Linked DNA regions of Homo sapiens. The protein of the gene in region 3 purifies or fractionates together with the protein of the main gene of each other region. This does not show direct contact. Each region holds a gene or a part of one and is shown on either strand. Other genes may lie near its edges.

Region 1 (4,375 bases), on a different chromosome or scaffold from region 3:
CACACCTATCAGGCTCTCAGGGCTTTATGACAGAGCAAGAGCTAGAGCCAGATCTTCCTTTCTTTGGTCAGACAGCTAGCTACCTGCAGGCTGTGCCTCTGCTGCAGCTAAGAGAACAGAGGGCATCTTCCACTCACCTTCCGAGCCTGTCATCTCTGCTGACAGTCCTGTGCCACAGGTATCTCTGTGACTCCTCAGCAAATCCCACCTGGCTTAGCCTATCCCAGCTCAGCTGCTCCTAGGCCTTTGTAGAGAAATGGGCAGCTGCTCACCTAAATCCACCTCCTCTTATTGCTGTGTAGGCTAGAAACGTGGCGTATACAACCACTTTCTACATCCTGCTCCTTAGTGGGATAAATTACGACACCATTGGGCAGAGTCTGTTTCTATACTTTTATAATGGATATTGATTGATTCAGCAGGCCAAACGTGAGTGTTCTATCACAGTGAGGAGTTACGAGGGAAGACCAGTTTTACTTCCGTCATGTGGTCATGAACCAAGTCTTTGAACATTCCTAGTCTGTTATTCCATTGTGACTTCTGAGTTAAGATGGTTGCATTTCATCGAAGTGATTAAGGATTTTGTGGGAGCTTTATAGACTAGGGTCTTTGTGTTCTTGAAGGCTATAAATGCCCCTCCCCACCAAATGCATATGAAATAAAACCTCCCTCCCTATTGACTTAGTTGATTTGTCATCTTGCTAATTAATGCTTTTAAGAGACCCTAACAGGCAGCATGGAAATGGGTGTCTCTGCGGTTGAGTTCTCTGATTCTCTTGAGAGCCAGTGATTTGCACTGGCAAATTTATCTTTCCTGACCTTGATCAATTTATAGTGTGTTGGTATCTCACTGTTTGGGACAGAAATTTGCAAGGATCCATTCTGTGTTGCTATGATTACTGCCAGCTCCTTTTCCATGTCATCACCTTTCTAGATCCTGATTGGTCTTGATTTTGAGATGATACAGAAGTAGTCCTTTAATCATTTCATCATTATTCACCTCACATTTAGCAAGTTTATTGCCAGAGACAAGATACTCGCTGGCAAGATTGTCAGGGTTTATTTGATTTTGAGGAGAGTTGGGCAAGTGGTCATTTGTATGGAATTACTTTTTAGAAGGCTGTTATTACTACTAAAGTCTTACTATTTAGCTTCCCAGCTTAAGCTCCAGTGGGGGCTTCAGTGCCTCATCGGGTAAAGGCCACATTCCAGCCTGGAATATGCAGTCTGGCCACACTCGTTCATAGCCTCATCTGTTCCCACTCTCCCCCACCCCACCCACCCTTACAGTATGAAACCCATTTGCTATTCATCGAAGGAGTTTTTCTTCTTCTTTTTTTTTGGAGACAGAGTCTTGCTCTGTCACCCAGGCTGGAATGCAGTGGCGCAATCTCGGCTTACTGCAACCTCCGCCTCCCGGGTTCAAGCGATTCTCCTGCCTCAGCCTCTCGAGTAGCTGGGACTACAGGCGTGCACCACCACGCCCGGCTATTATTTGTATTTTTAGTAGAGATGGGGTTTCACCATGTTGGCCAGGCTTGTCTCGAATTCCTGGCCTCAGGTGTTCTGCCCGCCTCGGTCTCCCAAAGGGCTAGGATTACAGGCGTGAGCCACTGTGCCCGGCCAGAAGTTTTCTTCTTTCACACTTCTAGTGCCTTTCTCCTGCTTGTTCACCTGACAAAATTCTCCCTTTCCCTTAAGAGTCTTTTCGAGCATTATCTCTGGGACACCCTTCTCTAATACCCTGAAGCAATTTAGGGGTCTTTCCTCTTTGGTCTCAGAGTACCTGGTTAGTACCTCTAGCAGATACCACATGGTACTATAACTGTTTACCAGTAGGCCCTTGATTAATACTAGCCTGGTGAGTGATTTTGGATATCAATGCTTGTTTCTTTTTGGCAGATCCCCTAGACCCTTCCTTCCCAGTGGAGTTTGTAAGACATGGAGACATTATTCGACTAGAACACAAAGAGTAAGTCAATTTGCAGTTTGGATAAATAAATGGTACGGGCACCAAGGGGAGGGAGTTATTTTAAGAAGTAAACAGAAGTTAGATTTTGATGAGGCTCTGGTCAATGGAGCAAGGCCACAGTGCGAGAATGGGAGAAGCATTTTATGAAGGTGATGAAATTGCAGGCCAGCCTTTGCCTGCCTTCTGGGGACCTTTCAATTTCCCATTTCCTAGAGGAAAATTTGAGTTGCTGAAAGCTGCTGCTGCTGTTTTTTTTTGAGACAGAGTCTCACTATGTTACCCAGGCTGGCCTCAGAGTCCTGGGCTCAAGCGATCCTCCCGCTTCAGCCTCCCAAATGGTTGCTATTACAGGCATGAGCCATCACACCCAGCTCCCAAAGCTTCTTCTTAAGTGGCTGCCTTTAGAAAGACGTAGGAGTCTGTTTCTGAGAATATGGCAAGCTAGCTTATTTAACCAGTGTTCTCACTGAAAATGACTAAAAATGCTGGAATAATATAAAGACTTCTTAAGAGCATAAAAAGGCTGACAAGATATTAAAGAGTTACCAGGCCAAAGCCTAAGTGAAATGAGGAATCCAGAGAAATAAGTGAGACACTGAAGCCACTTTTGCTTTGATCCCACAATCTTGACTTTTGGCTGTCTCTTGAGAGAAGAGGTTTTAAAGTCAAACCTAGGCTCACCCAAAGTGGTAAATTTATTAAGTTATCCTTCCCCATATTTGGAACCCCCAAAGGCTTGGGGTAAGGGTAAATCTGCCCTATCCACTTATGCCCAGGTCCACTTTAGGACCCAGCTAAGTGTTGGGGGTTGGGTGGTGAACTGTCCTTAGTTCCTGAGAAGTTGGAACTACCATTTGATCCTCACATGAACTTGGAGCTCAAATTCATGTTGCCTGGGTGATCTCAGAATCTCCAAGACATGAATTTAAATGAACATGATCCTAGATTGGTCGTGTCTCCTAGGTGCATGGCTAAAAGCAAATGTAAGCCCTCTTTGGGGAAAGTCGTTGTCATTTGTTCCCATAGTTTTTTAGTGACAATAGTACACACCCAAAAGTAACAAAGCACACAAGGAAATAGGGCACTGTGTGCAAGAACAAGCTGAAACGACAGACAGCAGGAGCAGCCCCGTAAACATTTCATAGACTGGAATTATCGGATACAAATTTTTAAAAATCAGAGGTGTGTATGTGTGTGGGTATATATATATATATATAGAGAGAGAGAGAGAGAGAGAGAGAGACAGAGACAGAGAGAGAAGCAATTAGCTATGGTTTTTTTTTGAGTCAGCTGGATTTTGAATACTTAAAATTTTTATTTTATTAAATAAATTTCATTTGTCATTAATAAAAATTTATTGTAATTAAATTTTACTTTTGCAAATTTTCAGAAATTTTATAATGAACATTTATTATTTGTTCCAGATAAAAGTGAGAGTTGTTATATAAAACTAAATAAAAGCTAAATTAAACCCCTCTCATCCTCCACAGATGTCCACTTAAAAAAATCTGGCGATGGGAGCAGAAAGAGTAAGTGGCAGTGAGGAGGTTACCTAGCTCAGGCCATGCAGATTACAAGTTTTAATTTTTCCTCTCCTCAAACCTGCCTCCTAAGTCAGGCAAGCTAAGTGCTTCAAAGCTACTAAATGTGTGAAAGTCGCCCCCCACCTCCCTGCCAGCACCTAAAGTTAGCCCCTTTCTTGGCATGCCGTCCAGTGCTCCTACCATCTGTCTCTCCTGGTTTGGGCTCATCTCTTCTCCAGTTCTCAGGATATTTCTTGTGAGTAAATAGGAAACCAGTTCCTGATATGTTGGATTTAATAGTTCAGATTCTAATTTTTCTTATCCTGACAGTTGACTCTGAACATCCTTGGTAAAAGAAGAAATGTTGCACATCATCTTTCTATAGGATAATGACACTTCTCTTTTCTAACTTCTAGAACTTCCCGGAACTTGCACAGTCACTATCATGAGGCCCCCATGACCCGGAAGCACTATCAGGTCACCGGCTATGGCATAGTAAGTAAGCAACGGGGATGTGAGTAGGACGTAAAAGTTATGGGCCTTGGCTCAGGGCTGTGTGGTGGGATATCTCCTCCCCAGAATTCTGGAATGTTCCTGAGGATAAGAGGCTGCACAGGGACTCTCTTAACATTTGGGCACTTTTTGGCTAGGCCTGCTCTGGGAAAAGCAGCCTATGAAGTCTGTTTGTCTCCATCTCTCTCCTCACATAATAACCATGCCATTTACATGCTCTGATACTTAATAAATGTCAAATATGAATACTATTTGGATCTCTTTTAAAATCACATTGGACATAGAAGCCAAGGACCCACAATATGACCCCAGATGAACAACATGTATGTTTATCTTTTGCCAGATCCCAAATTCTCATTAGCTTTAT
Region 2 (3,464 bases), on a different chromosome or scaffold from region 3:
TGTTTACATTCGTAGGGTTTCTCTCCTGTGTGAGTTCGTTCATGGATTCGAATGTACTTGGAACAACTGAAAGCTTTCCCACACTGCTTGCATTCATAGGGTTTATCTCCAGTGTGAGTCCTTTCATGTATTCTAATGTAACTGGAACAACTGAAGGCTTTCCCACATTGCTTGCATTCATAAGGTTTCTCTCCAGTGTGACTTCTTTCATGTATACGAAATAAACTGGGATAATCAAAGGCTTTCCCACACACCTTACATTTGTAAGGTACACCTCCCCTATGCGTTAACATGTGTCTTCGAATGCTTACAAGAGAAATAAAGGTTTCTCCACATTCCTTACAATCATAGGGCTTTCCTCCAGGATGAGTCCTTTCACGTACTGGAAAAGAGCGATGATAACTCAAGGCTCGTCCACACTGGTTACGTGTATATGACTTCTTTCCATATTCCTGATATTCATTTGGTTCACGTCCAGTGTGATCTCTGATGTGCCTATTAAGTGATGAAGGACCCATGCCAACTTCTCCACACACACTGCTTTCACACGGTTTTACTCCAGGAGTTTTCTTGTTCAGAATACCATCTGGAATCTGGCTGAAGGTTTCTTCACCTTGACCACCTTCTTTACTTTCACAGAGTCTCTCTGGAATATGACTTGTCAGAAAAATGAGAAGTACATTATTAATGTTTTGTTTATAAATGATTTTATATTTATTAATAGGTATTAGACTTACATATACTTGTTTTTAAATACAGAGACAGAATCTTACTATGTTGCCCAGGCGTGAACCCTGAACTCCAAGGCTCAAGGGATCCTCTCACCTCTGCCTCCCAAAGTGCTGGGATTACAGGCGTGAGCCACCATGCCTGGCCTTGGATTCACATGTTTAACATTACCAGGGAAAGTGTACGTTTTATGCCTGTCTCAACTGTTTGAACATGAGTGGACTAAATGGTCTGCAATAGGTCACAACCATACCTATTATCAAAAAATGATATTCATGGCCAGACGCAGTAGCTTATGCCTGTAATCCCGGCACTTTGGAAGGCCAAGACAGGAGGATCACCTGAGGTCAGGAGTTTAAGACCAGCTTGACCAACGTGGAGAAACCCTGTCTCTACTAAAAATAAAAAATAAAAAAAATTAGCCAGGCGCAGTGGAGCACGCGTGTAATCCCAGCTACTCGGGAGGCTGAGGCAGGAGAATTGCTTGAACCCAGGAGGCAGAGGTGCAGTGAGCCAAGATCATGCCATTGCACTTCAGCCTGGGCAACAAGAGCGAAACTCTGTCTCAAAAAAAAAAAAAAGAAAGAAAGAAAATGATATTCATGGCCAGGTGTGGTGGCTCACATCTGTAATCCCAGCACTTTCGGAGGCTGAGGCAGGTGGATCACCTGAGGTCAGGAGTTCAAGACCAGCCTGGCCAACATGGTGAAACCCTGTCTCTACTAAAAATACAAAAAATTAGCCAGGTGTGGTGGCAGGCGCCTGTAATCCCAGCTACTCGGGAGGCTCAGGCAGGAGAATCGCTTGAATCCAGGAGGCGGAGGTTGCAGTGAGCCAAGATGGCACCCTTGCACTCCAGCCTGGGCAACGAGTTGTGAAATTCCCTCTCAAAAAAAAAAAAAAAAAGATATTCGTATGAAGTTTCTTAATACTATCTATAATTGAACTATTTTGCAAACACTGAACATCTATGTTACACTTAACTATGTTTTTGGAGAAGATTTTCTTTTTTTCTTTTTTGAGACAGAGTCTCACTCTGTCACCCAGGCTGGAGTGCAGTGGTGCCATCTTGGCTCAAAGCAAGCTCTGCCTCCCAATTCACGCCGTTCTCCTGTCTCAGCCTCCCGAGTAGCTGGGATTACAGGCACCCACCACCACACCCAGCTAACTTTTTTTTTGTATTTTTAGTAGAGACGGAGTTTCACCGTGTTAGCCAGGATGGTCTCGATCTCCTGACCTCGTGATCTGCCCACCTCAGCCTCCCAAAGTGCTGGGATTACAGGCGTGAGTCACCATGCCTGGCTTGGAGAAGATTTTCTAAAAACAAAACAGTTTGAAGCTGGGCTTATATGTTGTTTGCTTGCTTTTAAAAATTCCTGCTGGGCATGGTGGCTCAGGCCTGTAATCCCAGCACTTTGGGAGGCTGAGGCAGGCAGATCACGAGGTCAAGAGAACAAGACCATCCTGGCCAACATGGTGAAACCCCGTCTCTACTAAAAATACAAAAAATTAGCTCGGCGTGGTGGCACGTGCCTGTAGTCCTAGCTACTCAGGAGGCTGAGGCAGGAGAATCACTTGAACCTGGGAGGCGGAGGTTGCAGTGAGCCAAGATTGTGCCACTGCACTCCAGCCTGGCGACAGAGCGAGACTTCATCTAAAAAAAAAAAAAAAAAAAATTCCTAACAATACGAAATGCTCTCAAGGAACAGAACTTTCTTTTGTGAGTGCAAATTACCTTATATTTCTCCTGGGAATTTTGAATGGGTCTTCAATGTTCTGGTCTTCCCATTGTTTTCCTAAAATTTAGACCCAGAAAAGTCATTATGAATTAGTATAAAATTATGAAAAAAGTATTAGATTCTATATTCATAATTCCCTGTACCCATGCCTGGTTTATTCCCCAAAGTGTTAAGGAGCTAGAAACACTTGTTCTCTAATTCACTGAGGAAAGGAATATTGTCACCCTTACCTACAGAAGCCAGGTTCCTGAAGGTTTCCCGCATCACATCCCTGTAGAGATTCTTCTGGGAAGGATCCAGCAAAGCCCACTCCTCCAGGGTGAAGTTCACAGCCACATCCTCAAAGGCCACTGAATCCTGAAACATCCCCCATGTGTGGAGGAGGAAGGTTGAGACAGACAGCACTGGGGGCCTAGACTTTATTCCCAAGAAGTTCTCAGGATGCTATGCTTTCCAAACATTTATTTCAAGATTCCACAGTCATCAAACTTACCCTCTGTCTAGACTCACTTCCTTCCACAAAGCAATTCTGCTGCTAGAACTGAACTAGCAACAGCAGAATAGGAGCATGCCTCTCTGGTGGGAGAAGTATGTACTGCCTGGGCCACCCCTAATGTCTCTCTGTAAGGTAGGCCTGTAGCACCTGTTGTAACAAACATGTAGTGGCTGGGCGCGGTGGCTCACGCCTGTAATCCCAACACTTTGGGAGGCCGAGGCGGGTGGATCACGAGGTCAAGAGATCGAGACCATCCTGGCTAACAAGGTGAAACCCCATCTCTACTAAAAATACAAAAATTAGCCAGGCACGGTGGTGGGTGCCCATAGTCCCAGCTACTCAGGAGGCTGAGGTAGAAGAATGGCGTGAACCCAGAAGGCGAAGCTTGCAGTGAGCTGAGATTGCACCACTGCACTCCAGACCGGGTGACAGGGCAAGACTCCGTCTCAAAAAAAAAAAAAAAAAAAAAAATCTAGTAACTAGAGTGCAGAAAAAAGAGT
Region 3 (4,375 bases):
TGGGGAGTAGGATCCCCCAAGTCTGATGGGGAGCAGAAGAACAAGCTTAGGATGAGGGATAAGTGTTGGGAAAACCCAGGGAAGAGAAGGAATCCTACCTCTTCAGTTTGCAGGATGAGAGATCTTACAATTATTACTCATTCTTTTAAAATGCCTTTTATTTACACATTATGGAAAGAATCTCACAAGGCCGATAATTGTGACCTCCCCCTGAATCTTACATTATTATTTTCTTTATGTTTGACATTTTCATAAATTATGAGAAAAAATTTAAAAGCCATGGTGCTAGCCCAGGCCCTCTTTCCCACTGCTGCCCTCTGCTCTCCCTGGAGAATAGCCTGCGCGTCTTAGTCTGCTTGGGCGGCCATGATAAAATTCCACAGGCTGGGGGCTTCTACCACTGACATTGATTCTCATAGTTCTGGAGGCTGCAAAGTCCAAGATTAAGGCACTGGCTAATTCAGTTTCTGGTGAGGGCTCTTCCTGGCTTTCAGAAAGCAGTCTTCTTGCTGTGTCCTCACTTGGAGAGAGAGCTCTCTGGTATCTCTTCTTCTTCTTTTTTTTTTTTGACATGGAGGAGGACAGAGGACACTCCCTCTGTTGCCCAGGAGTGCATTGTTGCAATCTCAGTTCACTGCAACCTCCGCCTCCTGGGTTCAAGCGATCCTCCAACCCTCCCAAGTAGCTAGGGTTACAGGTGTGCGCCACCACGACTGGCTAATTTTTGTATTTTTAGTAGAGATGAGGTTTCACCATGTTGGCCAGGCTGGTCTTGAACTCCTGACCTCAAATGATCTGCCCGCCTTGGCCTCCTGAAGTGCTGGGATTACAGGCGTGAGCCACCCAGCTAGGCCTCTCATGTCTCTTCTTAAAAGGACACTAATCCCATCAAGAGGGCACACCCTCATGACCTCATGTAACCCTAATTATCTTCTTATCTACTTATCTTACCTGCATATCTTCCAAATGCCATTACATTGGCGGTTAGGGCTTCAACACGATTTTTGAGGGGACAGAGTTTAGTCCATAGCACTCAGGCATTGGTCTGCTGTGTGCCCTCCTTGCCCCTCCCCATGATGTGTACGTACGTACATGGGCACTTACAGAGATAGGATAGTTGCTGAACTCTCAGGTCCTGGGTCCTGGGCTAAGCACTTTACACGCATTTTCTCCTTTCGCCCTCACAATTACCCAGTGAAGTTGGTATTATCTATCTCCATTTTATTGAAAGGAACACTGAGGCTTAAGGAAATTGTTACTTGCTTAAGATCCCATTAGAGCTAAGGTTTTTTTCTTCTTTCTTTCTTTGTTTTTTTTTTGTAGAGATGAGGTCTTGCTGTGTTGCCCAGGCTGGTCTCAAATTCCTGGCCTTAAGCTATCCTTCCCGCTTTGGCCCCCAAAGGGCTGGGATTCCAGGCATGAGCCACTGCACCCAGCCAGAGTTGGGATTTGAACCTAGTCATTCCTTTGCTTGTTCCCCTTACCCCTGCCCAACGTTGGTCTTGAAGATGTTTCCACATCAGGGTAAATAGACTTGCCTTGTTCCTTTTAACTGCTGACTCTGCAGTGCAAATATTTCATAGTTTACTAACTCTTCTCTTATTGATGAACATGGAGATTATTTCCAGTTTTTCACAATTTCAAACAGCACTAGGGAACTTTTACAGAGGAGGTTCCACTGAAGCTGAGTTTTGAAGTATGAGTAGGAGTTTTCCAGCCAGACAAGAGGGAAAGGCATTCGAGGCAGACAGAGAACATGGGCAAAAGTGGAGCACCAAAAGAGCGTGGTGCATTTGGAAGATGGCAAGAATTTAAGCCAGTGGCCAGGTGCAGTGGCTCACGCCTGTAATGGAGGCCAAGGCAGGTGGATCGCCTGAGGTCAGGAGTTTGAGACCAGCCTGACCAACATGGTGAAACCCCATCTCTACTAAAAATACAGAATTACCCAGGCATGGTGGTGCATGCCTGTAATCCCAACTACTTGGGAGGCTGAGGCAGGAGAACTGCTTGAACCCAGGAGATGGAGACCGCAGTGAGCTGAGATCGCGCCATTGTACTCCAGCCTGGGCAAAAAGAGCAAAACTCTGTCTCAAAAAACAACAACAACAACAAAAAAGAATTTAAGCCAGAGTGAAGGTCAGGGGCAAGGAAGGAGGTGGGCAAGGCAACCAGGACTGTGTTCAAAGGCATCGTGAGCTATGGGGCGGCATTGCTGTCTTACCCTAAGATGAGGTCTGTGGCCTGTGGGAGCAGCGGAGAGGTTTTGAGCAGAAGGGCCCTGATTAGAAATGCCCTTTGGTCAGAACATCCTGGAGGCTGTGCAGAGGATGGCTTGAAGGAACCTAGGTAGAGATAGACACACTGGAGGCTCTGGCTATTCTCCAGACTAGAGATGAATGTGGCCGGGCTAAGGGGTAGCAGTGAGGATGAGAGACGTGGGCTGGTCCAGAGAGTATTTAGGACTGGATGTGGGCAGTGCAGAAGAGGGGCAGCTAAGGTGGTTCCCCACAGCCCTGTGTGTATAGGAGATGGAGATGAGGGAGGAAGAGGGGACCATATATTTCCAAGGTTCTGTTGGGGAAATGAACCCCAGTCTTGTCCCTTTTCCTGCCAGACACTGACGAATGCCTAGGGACTCCCTGTCAGCAGAGATGTAAAAACAGCATTGGCAGCTACAAGTGTTCCTGTCGAACTGGCTTCCACCTTCATGGCAACCGGCACTCCTGTGTAGGTAAGGCGGGGAGGACCCTGTGGTCTGCACACTTAGGCTGCCAATCAGGAGGATGGACAGGGAGCCCAGGGACCCGGGAAGGTTAACAATTAGACTTTCTGGTCCTCTGGAGCTTGAAGGGGCTTGAGCCTTTGGCTCAGAGCCTGCCTGTCCCTGGGGTTGGTGTGGCTCTGCATGAAGACCCTGTCTTGGACTTTTCCTGGCCATTTGCCACTTTCATCCTGTTATGTTTCTCTTCCGCTCCTCTCCCAGATACACCCCAAGGATTCCTCTCTGCTCACCCATTTTCTTGGCTGCCTTTGCTCCCCTTGGTAAATAAAGCACGTTATGTCTTGGTTCCTCTGGTTTAGAAGGAGACCCTGTTTTCTCAGCCCATTAGCAGAAATTTCCAGAAAGGGATTGGCATGTTTGGTTTGAGCTTGGCTCATGGGTTTAAGGTGGGGTCCCATGGGCCTGAAAAAAGACCTTGTTCTAGCGGAGTTAGGTATTTGTCCCGAAGCCTTCCTTCAGCAGCCCAGTGAGTTTTGAGACTTTTTTCGGAAAGAAAAACGGGAGGGTGGAAGGTTTGGAGATGAGCTTCTCATTGGGGCTTACCCCTACCACGCAGCAATTAATTACCGCTGCATAGTGCTGGGGCTGAGTCTCTGATACTCGCATTAAATACCTGCTCGATGTGTGAACCTATTAACAAGACAAGCACTAGATTTCAGCCCCGCTCCCAGCTGTCTGAGTCACATCCCGCACCTCGGGGCAGGCATGGACCCTGTAAGAACATGGCAGAGAAACTCCCCAAGTGTTTTGAGCTAAGGGATGGGCGGAAGAAGGGCTCCGTAGCCCAAACAAAGCAGCTGTCCGCAGCGAGGCTCTCCCGCAGATGTAAACGAGTGTCGGAGGCCATTGGAGAGGCGAGTCTGTCACCATTCCTGCCACAACACCGTGGGCAGCTTCCTATGCACATGCCGACCTGGCTTCAGGCTCCGAGCTGACCGCGTGTCCTGTGAAGGTGAGCGCCAGGCCCCTCCATCCCGGCGGCTGGCCACGCCCCCTCAGTGCCTGCCCCAGCTACGCCCCCCCATAGCCTGGCCCCTCCCCGTCACGCCCTCCCGGCGCCCAGCCACGCCCTCTCAGCTCCTGGCCCCGCCCTACCCCGGCCCCGCCCACCTGGCGCTAGGCTCCCTTTCTGCTCTGCCCTTGTTTTGAGTTCATCTTGTTTGTTACTTTCAACACTCCACTTTCTTCCTCGCTTTCTTTTTCCACTTCTTTATCCATTCTTCCTTCTTCTTTTCACTGTTTCCCCAGCCCTTCTGTTTTTTTCCCAAATGATAAAAGGATAAAACCCAACAGGAGTCCGAGTATCCTGGGCTACAGGGACAGCCATTTCCGTGGTTCGCCCTGCCAAACGGCGACAGTGTCCCCATAAACATAGTAGAATGTTGCGCAGACCACGGGGGGTGAACAGGGACTTGTGGTGGTGGAGCCGAGCCCAGGTCTCCCTAAACCCTGCCTCCTGTCTCTGCTGTCCACCCCAAGAGACCTCCGTGCTTCTGTTTCAGCTTTCCCGAAAGCCGTGCTGGCCCCATCTGCCATCCTGCAACCCCGGCAACACCCGTCCAAGATGCTTCTGTTGCTTCCTGAGGCCGGCCG
Region 4 (4,846 bases), on a different chromosome or scaffold from region 3:
AAAACACTGGATTTCAGATGAGGAGGTAGAGATGAGGACAAATGCTGAGAACACACCCCTAACTGAGGCATGCAGGCATGAAGGATGACGATAGCCGAGGGAAGGAGAAAATGGGCTGAAACAAGGCTCCAAGCCAGGTGTGGGGGCACACACGTTGGTCCCAACTACTTAGGAGGCCGAGGTGGGGGATTTGCTTGAGCCCAGGAGTTGAAGGCTGCAGTGAGCTATGATTGTGCCACTGCACTCCAGCCTGGGCGACAGAGCAAGACTCTGTCTCAAAAAAAAAAAAAGAAAAAGAAAGAAAAACAAAAAAATAGCTCCACAGGTATCAGAATATGGTGTTGGCCAGTGAGGCTGTCAGAGGCTACATGGCTTCAGTGTGGGGAGCAAAACCAGCAAGAGTAGGGTAGGGTCTGAGGCCCGCACAGGCCTTTTTGATGGGTATTTCTGGCCACTGGGAGAAGTCCATGTCTAATGTGTCATCATTCTGCAGGGAAAGGAATAAAAAACCCAGACAGTATGCATTGGAATCAGATGCTGATGTGGTAATGACACTAGCAGAGAAGTCAGAACAGACCACACAAGATGTCCCAGGAGACAGAACAACTTGAACTGTGAGTGAGAATGAGACTGTCAAGAGAAAATGCCAAAGCTGATGTGTACTCAGGAGAGTCAACTGGTTATTCAAAGATCTAACAAGCTAATATTTTAGGAATAGGAATAACACATGCATGAGGGCCCTACCACCTAGACGGAGCTGCACAGACACATACAGACATACATACATGCACACACATTTTTTTTTGCTGAACCATTTGAAGGTAAGTTGCAGACATCATGATGTCTCACTCTACAGTCTTCAGCTTGTATCTCCTGTGGATATTCTCTTACATAATCACAGTACTATTATCACATGCAATAAATTTCATATTGATACAATATGACCTAAGATACAGCCCATTTTCAAATTTCCTCTTGTCCCAAACTGCCCTTTATCAATTTTTTTGGATCTATCCCCTAAGCAAGGAACATGCATTGCATTTGACTGTCAAGTTTCTTGAGGACTATAAAGCATTGTGACACACTACAGAAGTGAGGCACAGCTCACAATACACGTTTTGCAGCTGTTTCTAGCTGGCTATAATCTGCCATCACCTCTTTTGAGTGGCAGACTGACAAAATCACAAAATGCTAAAAAAAAAACAAAAACCCAAAGACCCCTTATTCCTCCACATCTTTCACTCTACTGTGCTCTCTTTGTCAACTGCACCCTTCTAAATACAACCATGGGGTGAGGTGGTTGCGGTAGAAAAACAAAATGAGGAACAGAGTTCACAGTCTGTAAAAGGAGGGATCTGGGTCCCATTTGGCTGCAGAAGTTCCCAGGGCCAATTCCTTGCTGAGCCCCCAGATTCTCTAAATCTCCAGGACTCTCCATGAAGGCCCCATGCCAGGGGCTGGGTACAGAGGAAAGCACACAGGGATGTGTCCCCTACCGCCACTCTTAACCAAGTGCTGCAATCCAGCCCTTCCTGAGCTGCTCCACGTGCCCCTGTCTGATTCCAGTCCCAGTAAACCAACCGTGCAAACATCCTGCACCAACCCCTGGCCAGCACGTGGATAGGCAAAGCGACCCCATGTGAGCCGTCAACTACTTTCTCAGATTCCACTAAAACCACTCCTCAGAGCTCCCAGCACAGCGCTGGGCAGAGAGATCCCCAGCAACTGACCCACTGAATTGGACTGGGCGAGACATTCAATAGAGCACATCTCGAGGGCACACCTCGGGCAACATCTGGACTCTTCACTTGGAGCTGTTCCCACTGCCCAGAGCTTCCTGAGGACTGGCCAGCAGGTACCCGGGTGAAGGTCTGTGGAAGGCTGACGATCCAGGGCTGGGGAGGGAATGTGCCAACCCTCTTCATAAAGAAGGAAGAACACACAGCCACTCACCTTGGACCTGGCTTCGGGAAGACCCCAACCCGATATATCCTCGAGATTCTCTTTCAGGGAAAGAGCAGGATCCTGAGAGGAAAGAGCTGGCGAAGGAGAAATGAGTCAAGGTCACGGCTACCAGGCTCACGGCTGAGCTTAAAGCCCACCTGTCGTGGCACAAGTGAGAATCAGAGAGGAGGCAGAACCTGCCAGCAAGGCCAGGTGGGGAACGAGCCCCAGTAGCTAGCACCAACAGAAACAGCATCGAGGAATAATCTGCCTGTGTCTCAGACACTCCAATTCATGACGAAAAGAGCTGCTACCCCCAATCAAGCACGTCTGAGTGGGAACAAATGATTGGGCGCGGGGAAGAAAGAAGCAGGAGGCCAGGAGCGATGGCTCACGCCTGTAATCCCAGCACTTTGGGAGGCCGAGGCGGGCGGATCGCTTGAGCTTAAGACCAGCCTGGGAAACATGGCAAAACCCCGTCTCTACTAAAAATACAAACATTAGCCGGGCGTGGTGGCGCGCGCCTGCAATCCCAACTACTTGGGAGGTTGAGGCGGGAGAATAGTTTGAACCCGGGAAGCAGAGGTTGCAGTGAGCGGAGATCAAGCCATTGCACCACTCCCGCCTGGGTGACAGAGTGAGATTCCATTTAAAAAAAAAAAAAAAGATGCTGGATGCTTCTGGGAAACTGGCCTGATCTCTCTGAGTGTCAATATCCTCAAGTGCAAATCCACAGACATACTGACTACAAGAGTGAAGCTGTACCTGTCTTCTCGGGCTCCGGGGCAGGGATCTCCATGGCCTCCACGGCAGCCTCCCCAGGAGGAGTGGGCAGCTGTGTAGCCTCCAGGATCCAGGGCAGGCCCTGAAGAGCGAGTACTGCTCCTGGGGCTGAGGGGCCTGCAGCGGAGCCCCGCGGGGCGGCCACGCGCTCACAGCTGCACGATCACACGCACGGAGCCCCCTCCCCGCGCCCGGCTGAGGTGGGGTTCAGGCCGGCTCCGCAGATACCCACTCCCCACACCAGGCTCAGCCCCATGCTCGGCGCACTCACGCCCCGGCACACCCCCGCCACACGCTCCTCCCGGCGAACCCGCGCTCGGAGACCAGGGCCAGGCCTAAGGTTCCGCGGCCAGGAGCCATCGGACGCGGAGCGACCAGCGGACAGGTCCCGAAGCGGACAGAGACCGCCGACGGTCTGAGGGACCGGCAAGTGGACAGACCGGACTCCCACAAAAGGACTGCGACTGCCACAAAGAGCAGCAGGCGGCCGCTGCGGGAAAGCGCGCCTGCGCGAAATAGGCGCAAACTACACCTCCCGGGAGCGTTTGCGCCGCGCAGGCGTCAGACTCCATTTCCTAGAGCGAGTTCGGGCCGGTGCTTGCGTCCCGACGCGAACGAGTATCTAGCACATCCTTCTAGGAAATGTAGTTCCTGGGCCCACAGCCGGGAGCTCCGGCACCCACCATGCTCTTGCGGGCGGATGTCGCTGTGTATCTCCGTGTGCGGATCAGTGTAGTGCCGCTGCATGGGTGTCTAATTGCGAGGATACTGGGAGGGCGGTGTCCAGGAACTAGAATTTGTCCTGTTAGTTCGTCCACGTCCCCACGTAGCTGGGAGTCGGGTGGGTTCCTGCCCACATCTGTCTGCAGGAAAGACTCAAGCCCCTGGTCTTACGGATATTGGGAGTGGTGGGTCTGGCCTCGAGGGGTTTTCCAGGGGCCCTGCCCCCACTCCCCCTTCTCGAGCCACATATCTGAGGCCCATGGGCGCGGGTCCCCAGAGGTGGGAGAGCCTTGGCCTAGTCCCCCCAGAGGGTCCTGTCCACAGTTCACCCCTGGGGCGGGAAAGGAAGGTCTGGGTGGCGGCCCAGTCCTGGCGGCACAGAGCTCTGCCATGAACACAGTGATGACGCCAGCGACAGAAACATTGAATATGTACTGAGCACCAACCAAACGCCAGGCCTACTTCAAGAGCTTGGAGTACATTTTTCTGGCAGAATGCTCACAGCAGTCCAGGGAGGTTTGCTAACTACTGTCATCCCATTTGGGAGATGAGGAAGTTGTGGTACAGGTGCGTGGGGTAACGTGTCGCAAATCACACAGCCAGAAGTAGGAATCCAGCACCGAAGTGCATTGCCACATTCCTACTGAGAGGTGGTCCGGGGTGGTGCACACTCCAAACCCTTCAGCCTCCCACCTTAACCGCAGCTTAGGCTTGGCCACAGGCTCTCACGTGACACCTGTCCACTGCCCACATCAGCACAGCTGTGCCCAGACCTCCCCTGCCCAGGGCAGCGCCCGTGTTTGATTTTGTTTTGAGACTGGGTCTCACTCTGTCGCCCAGGCTGGAGTGCAGTTGCACAATCACGGCTCACCGTAGCCTCAGTCTCTCGGGCTCAAACTATTCTCCCACCTCAGCCTCCGGAGTAGCTGGGACTTACAGACATGCACCACCACGCCCGGTTAATTTTTATATTCAGCGCCCATTTTTAATAGCAACCCAGTGAGAGGGGACAGCGTGCTGGCAGTCCTCACAGCCCTTGCTCGCTCTCGGCGCCTAGTCGGCCTTGGCGCCCACTCTGGCCGCGCTTGAGGAGCCCTTCAGCCCACCGCTGCACTGTGGGAGCCCCTTCCTGGGCTGGCTGCGGCCGGAGCCGGCTCCCTCAGCTTGCCGAGAGGTGTGGAGGGAGAGGCGCGGGCGGGAACCGGGACTGCGCGCAGCGCTTGCGGGCCAGCACGAGTTCCGGGTGGGCGTGGGCTCAGCGGGCCCCGCACTCGGAGCTGCCAGCCGGACCCGGGCAGTGAGGGGCTTAGCACCTGGGCCAGCAGCTGCTGTGCTCGACTTCTCGCCGGGCCTTCGTTGCCTCCCCGCGGGGCAGGGCTCGGGACCTGCAGCCCGC
Region 5 (4,375 bases), on a different chromosome or scaffold from region 3:
GGCGTGAGCCACTGCACCCGGCCTATTTAACACTTTTTGAATAGTGTATTAAAAGTTTTCCGTGATTGTTAGATGTTAGGATTTGTTCTTCTGTGAATGTCATCCTCCTAACCTTTGAACATTTTTCAATATCTCTTGAGTTCTACTGACTTCGTTCATGCTCTCTTGGCCATATAGAAGTGTCTGCTCTTTCACTGTCTCCGCATTGTCCTTCTTGGTTAAGGTGGTCTCCCTTAGACTATACAAAGTCTCCTATTTTCTTGAGGAATGTTCACTGTGATCATTTAAAAATTTCAGTTGTTTCATCCTTTGGAAAAATGTTTGCATATGATGCACGTTTTCCTTTCTTCCAGCTGGATATTCAGTTATGTCCAGTACCATTTCTTTAAAAATCCATTTTTTCCCTCTGAGTTTAAATATATTAAATTATCTTTTATTCTGGGATGCATTTGTCAATTATCCTCTGCTACTGATGCAGCTATTTTTATTGAATCACTGTGCTGTTTGGATTATAAGTAGCTTTATAAGATGGCCTAATATCTAGTGATGCCAGTTTCCCATTATGATTACTGAAAAATTGTTTTCTGGCTCTTCTTGTGAATTTAGTCTTCTGTATATATTTTATGACATCCAAATGAAAGAAAAGAAAAAAGCAAAACAACTCCCCCCTGCTCACCACCCCCAACAAAAATACTTTGTTTGAATCCTAATTGGAATGACACTAGGTTTATAAATTAATTTGGGGAGAACTGACATTTTTTGTGATAGCAAGTCTTCACATTCCAGGACATGCTATCTATTTTATGTCTTTCAATAACATCCTATAGTCTGAACTGGGAAACCCATTCCCAGGACTCTACTGCCTAGAAACATCACTCCTCACAGTGACACAAAATGGAAAAAAAAGTGGTTGTCCATCTATAGGAAAATTATGTAGGCTAGGCACGGTGGCTCACGCCCATAATCTCAGCACTCTGGGAAGCCGAGACCAGCAGATCACGTGACATCAGGAGTTTGAGACCAGCCTGACCAAGAGGGAGAAACACCGTTTCTACTAAAAATACAAAATTAGCTGGGTGTGGTGGTGGGCACCTGTAATCCCAGCTACTCAGGAGGCTGAAGCAGGACAATCTCTTGGACCCAGGAGGCAGAGGTTGCCAAGATCACGCCATTGCACTCCAGCCTGGGCTACAAGAGCGAAATTCCATCTCAAAAAAATAAAAATAAGTAAATAAATTATGTAACATACCACAAAAGAGTAAGTAGACATTAACAATAGTGATTTTGATGTTTTACCCGTTGAAGAGGATGGATTTCCATAAGGTACTGTTGAATGAGAAAAAACAATATAGAAAAGTACCTATTATGTGATCCCAATTTTGTGCAATAATGATCCCTTCCCATACTCATCACTGTCAGCAAGAAGAATGCAACCTGGGCTGTTATCAAGAATTACAGAGGTGGGGGCAGGAAAGGACAATGTAAACAGAGGGAATGGGGAGGAAAAAGGAAACAGCATAAATAAGAGAAAAACCAGGTCTGTACTAAACACCAAACCAAAACAACCAACAAAGTAGGTATGAGGTCCCATTTATGTATTTTAAAGTACATATGCACATTAAAAAACACAAGTCAGCTTTTATTTTTAAGACTGCACAATACTGACTACTAGATCATACTTCAATTCATTTATAGATAAACCAAAATAGAAATGGAAAAATGACCTCTGCATCTGAACTCATCCAAGGCCTAGAATAGTGACACATCTTACCTCTACCCACAGTTGTTCCACTGATAGATATTTCTCTCTCCTAAATCCCCTTTAAAAAACAACATAAATATTTCATGCCTTGTTTGTGAGATATTTCGCAAAGATTCCTTTTAAGGAAGATGTTAAACTAACATTCTTATCTTCCATCACTAGAAAGTTTTCAGAACTTTTAGAACAGAAAGTCTTTTCCACAGGAAAGTTAGGCTGGAAGCCCACTCATCTTTCAGGGAAAAACTGGAAATTAACCTTCACAGCAGAAAATAAAAGGTATATGAAATTTTAAGCAATAACCAAGACATAAGGGGTTCTTCTTGATCAAGTGAGTCCCTAAGTACGCAGTTTTCTGACTGGAAGATAAAAGAAAGGCTCACCCAAAGATCTACAGTGTTCAAAGAACAAAGTAGATTATTTTGTACCGCAATTCAGAAATTGTAAAAAATCATCCATTAAATTAAGACATGCCTAAGAAATTATTATTTTTAAATTAAAAGATTCAATTCATGATAGGCAAATCTGATAGTAAGTGGAGAGGTAATAATGAAGGAAGGATGATTTATATTACCAGAAGGTTTCTTTTTTTTATGAGACGAAGTCTTGCTCTTGTCCCCCAGTCTGGAGTGCAATGGTGCAATCTCGGCTCACTGCAACCTCCACCTCCCGGGTTCAAATGATTCTTCTGCCTCAGCCTCCCGAGTAGCTGGGATTACAGGTGTGTACCACCACACCCAGCTAATTTTTTGTATTTTTTTAAGTAGAGATGGGGTTTCACCACGTTGGCCAGGCTGGTCGCGAACTCCTGACTTCAGGTGATCCGCCCATCTCGGCCTCCCAAAGTGCTGGGATTACAGGCGTGAGCCACCGTGCCTGGCCTATTACCAAAAGGTTTCTAAACAACACAACAGATACAAGGGTCTGGGGCACAGTATTTGACCCATAGTAGTGCTAAACATTAATTCCATTTTCTTTCCAAAAGGATTTTTGTAAGGTTTCTTTATATGTCAATTGTCTTGGTGTATCTACCTAATATACACAGAACTTTTCAAAACTGTAACTATGACAAGGCGTGAAATATTTGGAATCACATATTCCAGGGTTTAGCCACACAGAAATTACAGCAATTTACTCTGGACTTATTAAAGCAAACAAATCCCTGCTAAAGCTATGGCTTACCTTCCTTCCATATTTAGGATACACACCAGTTCATCCTCAAAAAAAATCTCTGGTCCTTCAAGGTTCTCAATGTCACTGAAGCCATTACAAGGAACCTATGAAGAAGACATATACAAGTAGGCCTCAATTATGAGTATTGATGCAACTCTCACTCTCACAAATTTGAGCTGAAATAAAGATGTCCACTACTAAAGACAGTGCTAACAGTTATTCTACACTACCTTGCACTACCAGTCATGGGTAGAAAATAACATAAAGTAACAATAATTTACTGAGGTTTTGTTGTTGTTTGTAATCAATGATGTTTTCATAGACTGGAATTTCTGAAACTGACAACTCACAGTTCTAACGTAAAGAAAACTAGCTCTGGCCGGCCATAGTGGTTCATGACTGTAATCCCAGAACTTTGGGAGGCCAAGGCAGGCAGATAACCTGAGGTAAGGAGTTTGAGACCAGCCTGATCAACGTGGTGAAACCCCATGTCTACTAAAAATACAAAATTAGCCAGGCATGCCTGTAATCCCAGCTACTTGGGAGGCTGAGGCAGGAGAATCACTTGAACCCGGGAGGCGGAGGTTACAGTGAGCCAAGATTGCGCCATTGCACTCCAGCCTGGGCAACAAGAATGAAACTCCGTTTTAAAAAAAATAAAAAGGCGGCGGCGGCAGGTGCAGTGGCTCACGCCTGTAATCCCAGCACTTCGGGAGGCTGAGGTGGGCGGATCACCTGAGGTCAGGAGCTCGAGACCAGCCTGACCAACATAGAGAAACCCCATCTCTACTAAAAATACAAAATTAGCCAGGCGTAGTGGCGCATGCCAGTAATCCCAGCTACTCGGGAGGCTGAGGCAGGAGAATCACTTGAACCTGGGAGGCAGAGGTTGCGGTAAGCTGAGATCACACCATTGCACTCCAGCCTGGGCAACAAGAGTGAAACTCTGTCTCAAAAAAAAAAAAAAAAAAAAAAAAAAGATCTTCTGAGTTTAAAATTCTATGGCTTCTCTCAGTTTTCTTTTTGCAAGTAGCCAGAACATTTCAGGTCAACCTGTGTGCATTCTGAGAACACAGGAACGCCAAGATCCCGGGCCAAAGCAATCACCCACCCACAGATTAATGTTAAGTATGCTCCCGCTGTGTTCAAAGTCCTTGACATACTTCTAATTAAGCAGTGGTACAGGAAAAGGGGGAGCTGAGGAAAAAACACAACAATCCATCATTATTACACAGAGGCACAGACTGTTCAAAACATACACAAAACCAGCTGGACTAGAAATGGAGGTTGCAGGCTCATAGTCCATGACCAACTGCACCAAACATAGCTAGTACCAAAATCTACGTATGTGCAAACACATTCAGATCAGCATTTACAATTTGTGATTATGAATGCTTTTAGCCAGGGCATGGCTTCTCCAAAGTAAAATACAAATTTTGTTTA
Region 6 (4,375 bases), on a different chromosome or scaffold from region 3:
TTCCCATATCCAGTCCTGTGGATTCTGCCCCCAAACAAGGTCTCTAGCTGTCCCGGTCACTGTCTCCTGATGGTGTCCTCCCATTGCTGCCTGCCCAGCTCCAGCACCTGCAGCCCGAGTGGGCTTTTTCTTTTTTTTCTTCTTATTTTTTCGGGGGACAGAGTCCCACCCTGTTGCCCAGGCTGGAGTGCAGTGGTACGATCTCGGCTCACTGCAACCTCCGCTTCCCGGGTTCAAGTGATTCTCCTGCCTCAGCCTCCCGAGTAGATAAGATTACAGGCGCCCACCACCACATCCTGGTAATTTTTGTATTTTTAGTAGAGACGGGGTTTCACCATGTTGGCCAGGCTGGTCTTGAACTCCTGACATCAAGTGGTCCACCCAGCTCAGCCTCCCAAAGTGCTGGGATTGCAGGTGTGAGCCACCACGCCCGGCCCCCTCATACACTTTCATTGGTGGAATGCCCTTCAGAAGGATTCCTTGGCAGTCATGGTACATTTGTCACTGTAGTGTTTGTAGACAAATTCAGAGCAATGCAGGTGTGATGACCGCGGGTAGAATCACATTCGGAAAATGACCTTTGGTTTCAGAAAAGAGCCCAATTAATGTCTGTGCTTTGGTTTCCTGTGTTCACCTCATGTGAGGCACACATGGGTTGGGAGGCAGTCTCAGCCATGAGAATTCAGAGCTGTGCCCCTCCGGTGCAGCTGTTAGTTCGAGGGGACCAGGCTCTGTGTGGTCCCGACAGCACTGTGTCTTCCAGGCACCAGCTGGTGGTGAGCAGCCCTCCGAGACCTGTGAGGCACGGGGACATGGTGCAGCTGGTCCACGGCATGACCACCCGCTCCCTGAACACGTGAGTGTGCCCGCCGTCTGCTCTGCTGCACCTGTGGGTTTCCTCTGTGGTTCTCTGTTCAGACCAAAACGTGAGCCCTGCCTTGGGCCGCTGCCCCCTGTCTACCCATCATCTGCATGTGTAGCAGCTCTTAGACCTACATTTGATGCCGGGAGGGGACCCAGGCCTGGCCGCGGAAGGGAGCGGGGTTAAGAGGAAGCAGGGGCTCTGTGAGGACTGGACAGAAGCACCTAGCACAGCCCATCCTAGGAGAGCTCAGGGCCCCGTGGATGAGTGTACAAGGACAGGCTGGGAATGTTGACCCGCTTTCTATGCAGAGAATGGAGTTTGGGCACACCTCCTTAAAGTGGTCAAGCTTAAAGTATGAGTGAGTCCAAGAAGCCTGGAAGCTCGGGCACGAGTGGAGCCGTGAAGGCTTCTTCCTTCTCAGTCCTTCGTCCTTGTCCGACTTGCCTTCCCGTGGTGCTGGGCACAGTTGCTCACACCCTCCTCCTTCCTCCCTGACTGCTCTCTCCACCGCCTCCTTTTCCTCTGTTGCTCTCAGTCTCTGAGGGCCCTCCGGCCTTGCTGCCTCTGCACAGGCCCAGTCCCGGGGCTACCTCTCCTGGACTTCCACCCGGCTGCCCGGGGCTCACCTCCAGCTCTCCACGACTCCCAGCTCCACAGGGGCGGTCTCTGGCCCTGGCTTTTCTGGTTCTCCCTGGAAAGGGCCCAGTAGCTGAGGCATCACCTGACTCCTTCCCCTCCCCTCCCATTGCATGTTGATTCCATTGGGAGATCCTGTTTCTCAACCTTCAGAACCAGCCCTGGGTAGGGGTCCTTCCTTCTCCCTCTACTCCCACCTCCTGGGGCCTGACCTCTCTACCTCGCAGCAGCCTGTCCGGCCTGCGGACCGTGCACAACCCACTTGCGTTGTTCCTCTGTGCTCAGTGACTCCCGTCACCCGCCAAGGTCCCTGGTGACCCTGACACACTTCACCCCCGCCACCCTGGCTCCCCCCAGCCCTGAAACAACCACCTGCGGGCCCCTTGGGGGCTTCACACTTGCTCCCTCTGCGAGAATGTTCTTGGACTTGGCTCCCCCATGGCCCCTCTATGTAGGGGTCTGCTGGGATGTCACTGCATCCAAAAGTGCCTCCTGGGTGCTGTCCCCCACCATTTGTTTTATTAGTGGCACTCCTACAGGTGCACGCTCTGCCCACCGGCATGATGGCTGTTTCCCAGAGGGCTGTGAGGGCCTTGTCTTGTTCACAGCTGGGTGGCTGCTCCTAGACAGTGCCAGGTGCATGGTGCGGTACCACATGGTTACTGAGTGTGTGGATTAAGAGGAAGTGGGTGTTCCTGACCGGGCGTGCTGGCTCACACCTGTAATCCCAGCACTTTGGGAGGCCAAGGTGGGCAGATCATTTGAGGTCAGGAGTTGGAGACAAGCTGGGCCAACATGGTGAAACCCCGTCTCTACTAAAAATACAAAAATTAGCCAGGCATGGTGGCATGTGCCTGTAATCCCAGCTAGACAGGAGGCTGAGGCAGGAGAATCGCTTGAACCCAGGAGGCAGAGATTGCAGTGAGCTGAGATCGCGCCATTTGCACTCCAGCCTGGGTGACAGAGTGAGACTCCATCTCAAAACAAAAAAGAAGTGGGTGTTCGTTAACATTGAGGTTGATAGCCTTTTCTCCCAGCTTATCTGCTGCGTCCCCAGGCCAGCTGGGCGCAGGGGCGGGCAGCTCAGCCCTGCAAGTTGTAGCATTGGTACTGCCAGCTGGCATCGCAGCAGTACCGGATCGGGCCTGGGCGCACGGTTCCTTCCTCTGAAACTTGGTTCGCTCGTCTAACAGGTGGAAGGTTCCACAGCAGAGTGTCCTTTTCTTTTGGAGATGTTCCCACAGGGCCTCCTGCCTGTTTAGTGTCCACTCCCATCGCCGAGCCTCAAGACCTCCGTCCTCAGTAGCAGCAACTCATGGGACTGGGCCACCCCTTATGGCTGAGCCGGCTTTGTTTCTGAAAAGCAACCTTTTCCTGCCTGAAAGATTTAGTAATTGCCTTCCAGAGGAGTTCAAGGAATTTTCTGAAATCTCGGTCTTGGTTTTCCAGGCATGATGTTGCAGCCCCCCTGAGCCCCCATTCACAGGAGGTCTCCTGCTACATTGACTATAACATCTCCATGCCCGCCCAGAACCTCTGGAGACTGGTGAGTAAGGCTGCGGCTATAGCAGCCACAACCGTCAGTAATGAACACTCCCTCACACGGAGCACTTCCTCACCCGGAGCACTCCCTAACACAGAGCACTTCCTAACAGAACACTTCATCACACGGAGCACTTCCTCTAACACGGAGCACTTCCTCTAACACAGGACACTTCCTCACACGGAACACTTCCTCACACGGAGCACTTCCTGTAACAGGACACTTCCTCACACGGAGCACTTCCTCTAACATGGAGCACTTCCTGTAACACAGGACACTTCCTCACACGGAGCACTTCCTCTAACACAGGACACTTCCTCACACGGAGCACTTCCTCACAGGGAGCACTTTCTCTAACACAGGACACTTCCTCACATGGAGCACTTCCTCACATGGAGCACTTCCTCACAGGGAGCACTTCCTCACACGGAACACTTCCTCTAACACAGGACACTTCCTCTCACACTCACACGGAGCACTTCCTCTAACACAGGACACTTCCTCACACGGAGCACTTCCTCACACGGAGCACTTCCTCTAACACAGGACACTTCCTCACACGGAGCACTTCCTCACATGGAGCACTTCCTCACAGGGAGCACTTCCTCACACGGAACACTTCCTCTAACACAGGACACTCTCACACTCACACGGAGCACTTCCTCTAACACAGGACACTTCCTCACACAGAGCACTTCCTCACACGGAGCACTTCCTCACACGGAACACTTCCTCACACGGAACACTTCCTCACACGGAACACCTCCTCACACGGAACACTTCCTCACACGGAGCACTTCCTCACACGGAACACCTCCTCACACGGAGCACTTCCTCACACGGAGCACTTCCTCTAACAGAACACTTCCTCACACGGAGCACTTCCTCACAGGGAGCACTCCATCACACGGAGCACTTGCTCACACGGAGCACTTCCTGACATGGAATGTTTGAAACTGCCGTTGAGAATAATCATTTTTCCTTTTTTTCAGTTTACCCAGTTGAGGTTGGATATTTAGAATAATTCTGATTCAGATGTAAAGTTACATAAGTTTTATTCGTACATAAAGTCACAGATGTTTTCACAGGGAACCGATGCGTCTTCCTTGGTGGAACTGGGGAACCTGGTGGTTTCCTGCATCAGAGGCCTGTGTTCACTGAGATTCTAAATGCTTTGTGTTTGCTCCATGTTGGGTGCCAGGTGCGCTTGAGGCTCTGCCAGGTGAAAGTTCTCCCAACCTGTTTAGCCTCAGGAGCAGGTCCTGAACACAGGACACGAGCTCCAGCCACCCCTCTGCCACCATGATCCAGGAGAAATTCCATTTCTCAGG
Region 7 (5,012 bases), on a different chromosome or scaffold from region 3:
AGACGGAGCAGGGTCCCCCACTGTCACAAACTCTGCACCCTGCCTAAGTCAGTGCTAGTTTCATGAATGTTTTCAATCCACACCTTCGCCCACCTCACAATATGGCATGGGGCTGTGTGTGCGCCTTTCCCCTCATCCTAATGGAAGATGCAACGTCTTCCGAGTTTGAGAGTTTTCCACAGCAGCCTTCTCGGGCTAAGCCATGGTATAACACCAGGCAGTGGCAGAAGGCAAAGAACACATCCAAGACAATGACTGCCCTCACTAAGGACAAGAAAAAAAAGGCAAAAAGCATTTATTCTTTTTTTTTTTTTTGAGACAGGGTCTTGCTCCGTCTCCCAGGCTGGAGTGCAGTGAAACAATCTCAGCTCGCTGCAACCTCCGCCTCCCCGGTTCAAGCGATTCTCCTGCCTCAGACTCCCAAGTAGCTGGGATTGCAGGCACTTGCCATCACACCTGGCTAATTTTGATATTTTTAGTAGAGACGGGGTTTCCCCATGTCAATCAGGGTGGTCTTGAATTCCTGACCTTGTGATCCGCCCACCTCAGCCACTCAAAGTGCTAGGATTACAGGTGTGAGCCACCGCGCCCGGCTCTTTTTTTTTTTTTTTTTTTTTCCAGACAGGGTCTAGCTCTGTTGCCCAGGCTGGAGTGGAGTGGTACAGCCTCAAACTCGTGGGCTCAAGCGATTCTCCCCCCTCAGCCTCTCAAGTGGCTGGGACCACAGGTGCGCATCCCCATGCCCGGCCTCATTATTTTACATTTACTAAAACCTGGGGCTGAAATAGGAACAATACCAATGCTGAGCTGGACACAGACGAGGCTGTTCGCAGCTGTCAGGTGACAATGTTGAACTGACTTCAGCTCTGTGCTCCTGGAAACCAGCAAAGGTGAAACCCCGTCCTGCTGTGCTCTGGAATTGGGACAGCCAGGACCCTCCCTTCCCATACGACTTAGATAAGATTCACGCAGATGACAAGGCCAGATTCAGACCCTCCGAAATCCCATTCTTTGTCATCAGAAATGATTCACTAGGTTAGGTGTGCCCAGGCTGGAGTGCAGTGGTGTGATCATGGCTCACTGCAACCTCTGCCTCCCGAGTTCAAGCAATTCTCCCTGCCTCAGCCTTCCAAGTAGCTGGGATTACAGGCACACACTACCACGCCCGGCTAATTTTTGTATTTTTTAGTAGAGATGGGATTTCACCATGTTGGCCAGGCTGGTCTTGAACTCCTGACCTCAGGTGATCCACCTGCCTCAGCCTCCCAAAGTGCTGGGAGTACAGGCATGAGCCACCGCGCCAGGCCTAGCCAACTCTTCAGATGCCTGCATACTTGACGGTCACAGAGCTCTCCCCCTGCAGCTGTCTCCCTGTGGCTACAGCATTAGTCCCGCAGCTCAATCATCAACTGTCCCCATGCCCCTGTTGCTTATACCCCCACCCCACTGCAATAGAACCTCAAGCCTCTGGCATTACTCTCCTGCCTCTAATCCAACTAACCCTTCTCCCTATTGCAACAGCCCCTTCTCCCCCTCCCCCAATACCTCGCAATAATCCTTTTTCATAAAAGTTTCCTTACTACGTTTGGGTTTACACAAGCTTGACCACATGTTCGCAGCCTCCCGTTTCTTCCCCAAACTTTACTCAGCCTTCTGTCCTCTCCGCAGGCCCCTGAACTTTGGCCCCCCCGAGTCTGAGCAAGCAGTAAGTGTGGAGTCCCCTGTCACCTCCCCTGAGCTAGCTGACCACGAGGAGGTACATTTACTGTCAACCTCCTTTCTGCTTGTCCCCTAAAACGTTCCTCCAAACCTTTTCTTGTGTATGAAAGTAAAGCCTTTTCCTGGTTGATTTTGAGACCTGGCAGGTTTCGGAGGCTGGGGCTTATCCCTATTTTTCTCTCTCCTTCTCTAGCCAGGATTTTTTTTTTTTTTTTTTTTTTTGGTTTTTGTTTTTGAGACGGAGTCTTTCTCTGTCGCCAGGCTGGAGTGCAGCGGCGCCATGTCGGCTCACTGCAAGCTCCACCTCCCAGGTTCACGCCATTCTCCTGTCTCAGCCTCCCTGGTAGCTGGGATTGCAGGCGCCCGCCACCACGCCGGGCTAATTTTTGTATTTTTAGTAGAGACGGGATTTCGCCATGTTGTCCAGGCTGGTCTGGAACTCCTGACCTCAGGTGATCCGCCCGCCTCGGCCTCCCAAAGTGCTGGGATTACAGGCGTGAGCCACCGCGCCCGGCCCAGGATTTTATTATTTGACAGGCTCCAGGACAGGGCACCACCTCCTCCTTGGCAGACCTTCCCAAACTGACCACCAAGCCCCTGACGGCTCCTGCCCTCTCCTCCCACTCTCCCCGATCCCCTGACTGCCTCTACTGTCCCCCAACACATCCCTCGAGCCCGACTCCCTTTACTGTCCCCCCAAACTTCCCTCAAGCCCCTGATCGCCTCTACTGCCCCCCTTAAAGTGCCCCTGAGCCCCTGACTGCTTCTGCTGTCCCCTCGAGCTGCCCCCAAACTCCCGACTGCAGCTACTGTCCCCCTAAACTGCCTTCGAGCCCCTGATCACCTGTCCCCCAAAACTGCCCCTTCAAACCCATGACCGCCTCTACGGCCCCCTCAAACTGTCCCCGAGTTCCTGACCGCTGCTATTGGCCCCCTAATCTGCCCTTGAGCCTGACTCCCTTCCACTGAACCCCCAAACTGCCGCCGAGCCCCTGACCGTGTCTGTTCCCGCAAACTGCCCCTGTGCCCCTTAAACCTCTACTGTCCACTTAAATTGCCTCAAGCCCCTGACCACCTCTGCTGTCCCCACAAGCTCTCCCCAAACTCCTGACCTGTACTGTCCCCAGAAACTACCCCTCGAGCCCCTGACCGCTTTTGCTGTCACCCCAGACTGCCCCCAGCCCTACCCCTCGGCCGCTGTGACCACGTCCCCGGGGCCCAGGCGCTCGTCGTGCGCCGCCCCGCGCGTCCCTCAGCTTTCTCCGGCTGCGAACTCGGGCGGAAGCCGGTTCCTGCCGCCCCACCTCGCCCTGGGCCCGGGCTCGGCTCCCGCCCGGCACTCACCATGTCCCGCCCGCTCCTGGGCTCTCCAGGGTTAGCGCCCCGCGGTCCAGCGACCGGCGCAGGTGAGCACGACAGGACACCTGAGCCGCTCGGGGTAGGCGGGGAAGCGCGCAAGGCAGAGGGGAACTCGGCTTACCGTCCTCGGGGTCTGATTGGACAGATCTCGGGAAGTGGAGACTCTGATTGGACAGTGCTGTCGACTCCGCACCCCTGATTGGAGAATTCTCCAGTCCGTCCCCCTAGCGCCCTTGATTGGGCAGGGCTCCGCTTCGGATTAACGTCTCTGATTGGACAGTTCCCTAGGCCCCGCCCCTGCCTGTCCTGATTGGATAATTCTCTCCTCAGTGACGGGCTCGTCGAGAACACGCGTGGCTGACCCTCTAGCCGGGCAGCCGCGGATCTGGGAGAACTCACTCCAGTCCAGGGAGGGCGCGGCGTCCTCCTCCCTGACTGCACGGCAACTCCAGACTCAGTTTCCCCTCGGAGCGGCCCCTCGTGCGGGGAGGAGAGGAAGGGCACGGAGTCCCATGGGGCGGAGTCCTGCGTGGGGGCGGGACCCGCGTGCGTGACGTCACCGTGCTGTCCCGCGTGGGCGCGGACGCCTGGGGTCCAGAGACCTGGAGATCTGGAGACCAGACGACGAGGCCCCAGGAGGCCGGACCCCACCAGGCGCTCCCTGTGTTCTTAAAACTCTCGGCCGGGCGCGGTGGTTCACGCCGGTAATCCCAGCACCGTGAGAGGCGGAGACCGGCGGATCATCAGAGGTCAGGAGTTCAAGTCCAGCCTGACCAAAATGGCGAAAACCACTTCTCTCCTAAAAATACAAAAATTAGCTGGGCACGGTGGCGGGCGCCTGTAATCCCAGCTACTCCGGAGGCTGAGGCAGGAGAATCGCTTGAACCCAGGAGGCGGAGATTGCAGTGAGCCAAGATCAGGACACTGCACTCCAGCCTGGGCAACAAGAGCGAAACTGAGTCTCAAAAAAAAAAAAAGCAGCCCTCCCACAAACAGAACCACGTAAGGTCATGAAGAGAGAGGTCTCACATTTATATGCTTAATAACGAAAAAGACTCTACAAAAACCACAGGCTTAAACAAAAAATACTTTTACAGGGACACTCAGACTGGTGTGACCCTTGTTACTGATCTTTGTAGACAAGGATAATTATTTCTGAAAAATGATGTAATCCTCATTTAAAATTTTTTTTTTCCTTTATAAACCTTTGTCCCAGTCTGGGCAACATGGCAAAACCCCATATATACAAAAAATACAAAAATTAGCTGGGAATAAAGGAGTGTGCGCCTATGGTCCCAACGACTTGATAGGCTGAAGCAGGAGGATCGCTCGAGCCCGTGGGGATTGAGGCTGCAGTGAGCTGTGATCTCACCATTGTACTCCAGCCTGGGCAACAGAGACCCCCGTCTCAAAAAAATGAAAACCAAAAACAACCTTTGTCTTCCTTTACCTCCCTGAATAAGCACATAGTTTGCTATGCCGCGCATATTCCCACTGCAATGAACTGTTACCACCGTTTTTAGACAGCCTGTTATTTAGGTCGACACAGTAAAAACATGAATTACGACAATTATGTTTGTATGTAAAATGGCAAGCGATATAGAGTTTATACTTCTACTCTGTCTCAAGCTGGAAAGTCTTTTCGGAGATGAGCAGTCGCGTTCCAGGCTTTAGGAATTGCGGCTCAACTGAATAAAAGTATTCAGAATTTTCACGTCGAGTTCAAATTTATTTAAACTTCTATGATTATTTTCTCAAATGAGTTAAAATAAGAATTCAATTACCATAGGAACAGTACAGCCTTTTACTTTAAGAAATTCTCTAGGGCCGGGCGCAGTGGCTCACGCCTATAATCCCAGCACTTTGGGAGGCTGAGGCAGGTGGATCACCTGAGGTCAAGAGTTCGAGACCAGCCTGGCCAACATGGCAAAACC

Evidence for each region.
Region 1: the proteins of VWCE (region 3) and POMT2 purify together in Homo sapiens (affinity purification with mass spectrometry; 2 studies listed by BioGRID and IntAct, with this or other methods). This does not show direct contact.
Region 2: the proteins of VWCE (region 3) and ZNF627 purify together in Homo sapiens (affinity purification with mass spectrometry; 2 studies listed by BioGRID and IntAct, with this or other methods). This does not show direct contact.
Region 4: the proteins of VWCE (region 3) and ZNF74 purify together in Homo sapiens (affinity purification with mass spectrometry; 2 studies listed by BioGRID and IntAct, with this or other methods). This does not show direct contact.
Region 5: the proteins of VWCE (region 3) and FBXO21 purify together in Homo sapiens (affinity purification with mass spectrometry; 2 studies listed by BioGRID and IntAct, with this or other methods). This does not show direct contact.
Region 6: the proteins of VWCE (region 3) and POMT1 purify together in Homo sapiens (affinity purification with mass spectrometry; 2 studies listed by BioGRID and IntAct, with this or other methods). This does not show direct contact.
Region 7: the proteins of VWCE (region 3) and ZNF77 purify together in Homo sapiens (affinity purification with mass spectrometry; 2 studies listed by BioGRID and IntAct, with this or other methods). This does not show direct contact.

The regions. Positions count from the first base shown.
Region 1 is NC_000014.9:77,286,359-77,290,733, reverse strand, and holds part of POMT2 (protein O-mannosyl-transferase 2), read left to right. Parts: intron 1-1,902; coding exon 1,903-1,972; intron 1,973-3,462; coding exon of another isoform or gene 3,463-3,501; intron 3,502-3,911; coding exon 3,912-3,990; intron 3,991-4,375. UniProt on the Homo sapiens protein: Transfers mannosyl residues to the hydroxyl group of serine or threonine residues. Coexpression of both POMT1 and POMT2 is necessary for enzyme activity, expression of either POMT1 or POMT2 alone is insufficient.
Region 2 is NC_000019.10:11,613,888-11,617,351, reverse strand, and holds part of ZNF627 (zinc finger protein 627), read right to left. Parts: intron 2,826-3,464; coding exon 2,699-2,825; intron 2,526-2,698; coding exon 2,465-2,525; intron 658-2,464; coding exon 1-657. UniProt on the Homo sapiens protein: May be involved in transcriptional regulation.
Region 3 is NC_000011.10:61,281,145-61,285,519, reverse strand, and holds part of VWCE (von Willebrand factor C and EGF domain-containing protein precursor), read left to right. Parts: intron 1-2,614; coding exon 2,615-2,731; intron 2,732-2,983; exon of another isoform or gene 2,984-3,042; intron 3,043-3,605; coding exon 3,606-3,734; intron 3,735-4,284; coding exon 4,285-4,375.
Region 4 is NC_000022.11:20,392,526-20,397,371, reverse strand, and holds the start of ZNF74 (zinc finger protein 74), read right to left. Parts: upstream 3,222-4,846; 5' UTR 2,744-3,221; coding exon 2,710-2,743; intron 2,040-2,709; coding exon 1,954-2,039; intron 1-1,953. UniProt on the Homo sapiens protein: May play a role in RNA metabolism.
Region 5 is NC_000012.12:117,183,536-117,187,910, forward strand, and holds part of FBXO21 (F-box only protein 21), read right to left. Parts: intron 3,037-4,375; coding exon 2,942-3,036; intron 1-2,941. UniProt on the Homo sapiens protein: Substrate-recognition component of the SCF (SKP1-CUL1-F-box protein)-type E3 ubiquitin ligase complex.
Region 6 is NC_000009.12:131,512,476-131,516,850, forward strand, and holds part of POMT1 (protein O-mannosyl-transferase 1), read left to right. Parts: intron 1-763; coding exon 764-856; intron 857-2,950; coding exon 2,951-3,047; intron 3,048-4,082; exon of another isoform or gene 4,083-4,375. UniProt on the Homo sapiens protein: Transfers mannosyl residues to the hydroxyl group of serine or threonine residues. Coexpression of both POMT1 and POMT2 is necessary for enzyme activity, expression of either POMT1 or POMT2 alone is insufficient.
Region 7 is NC_000019.10:2,941,775-2,946,786, forward strand, and holds the start of ZNF77 (zinc finger protein 77), read right to left. Parts: upstream 3,198-5,012; 5' UTR 3,067-3,197; coding exon 3,064-3,066; intron 1-3,063. UniProt on the Homo sapiens protein: May be involved in transcriptional regulation.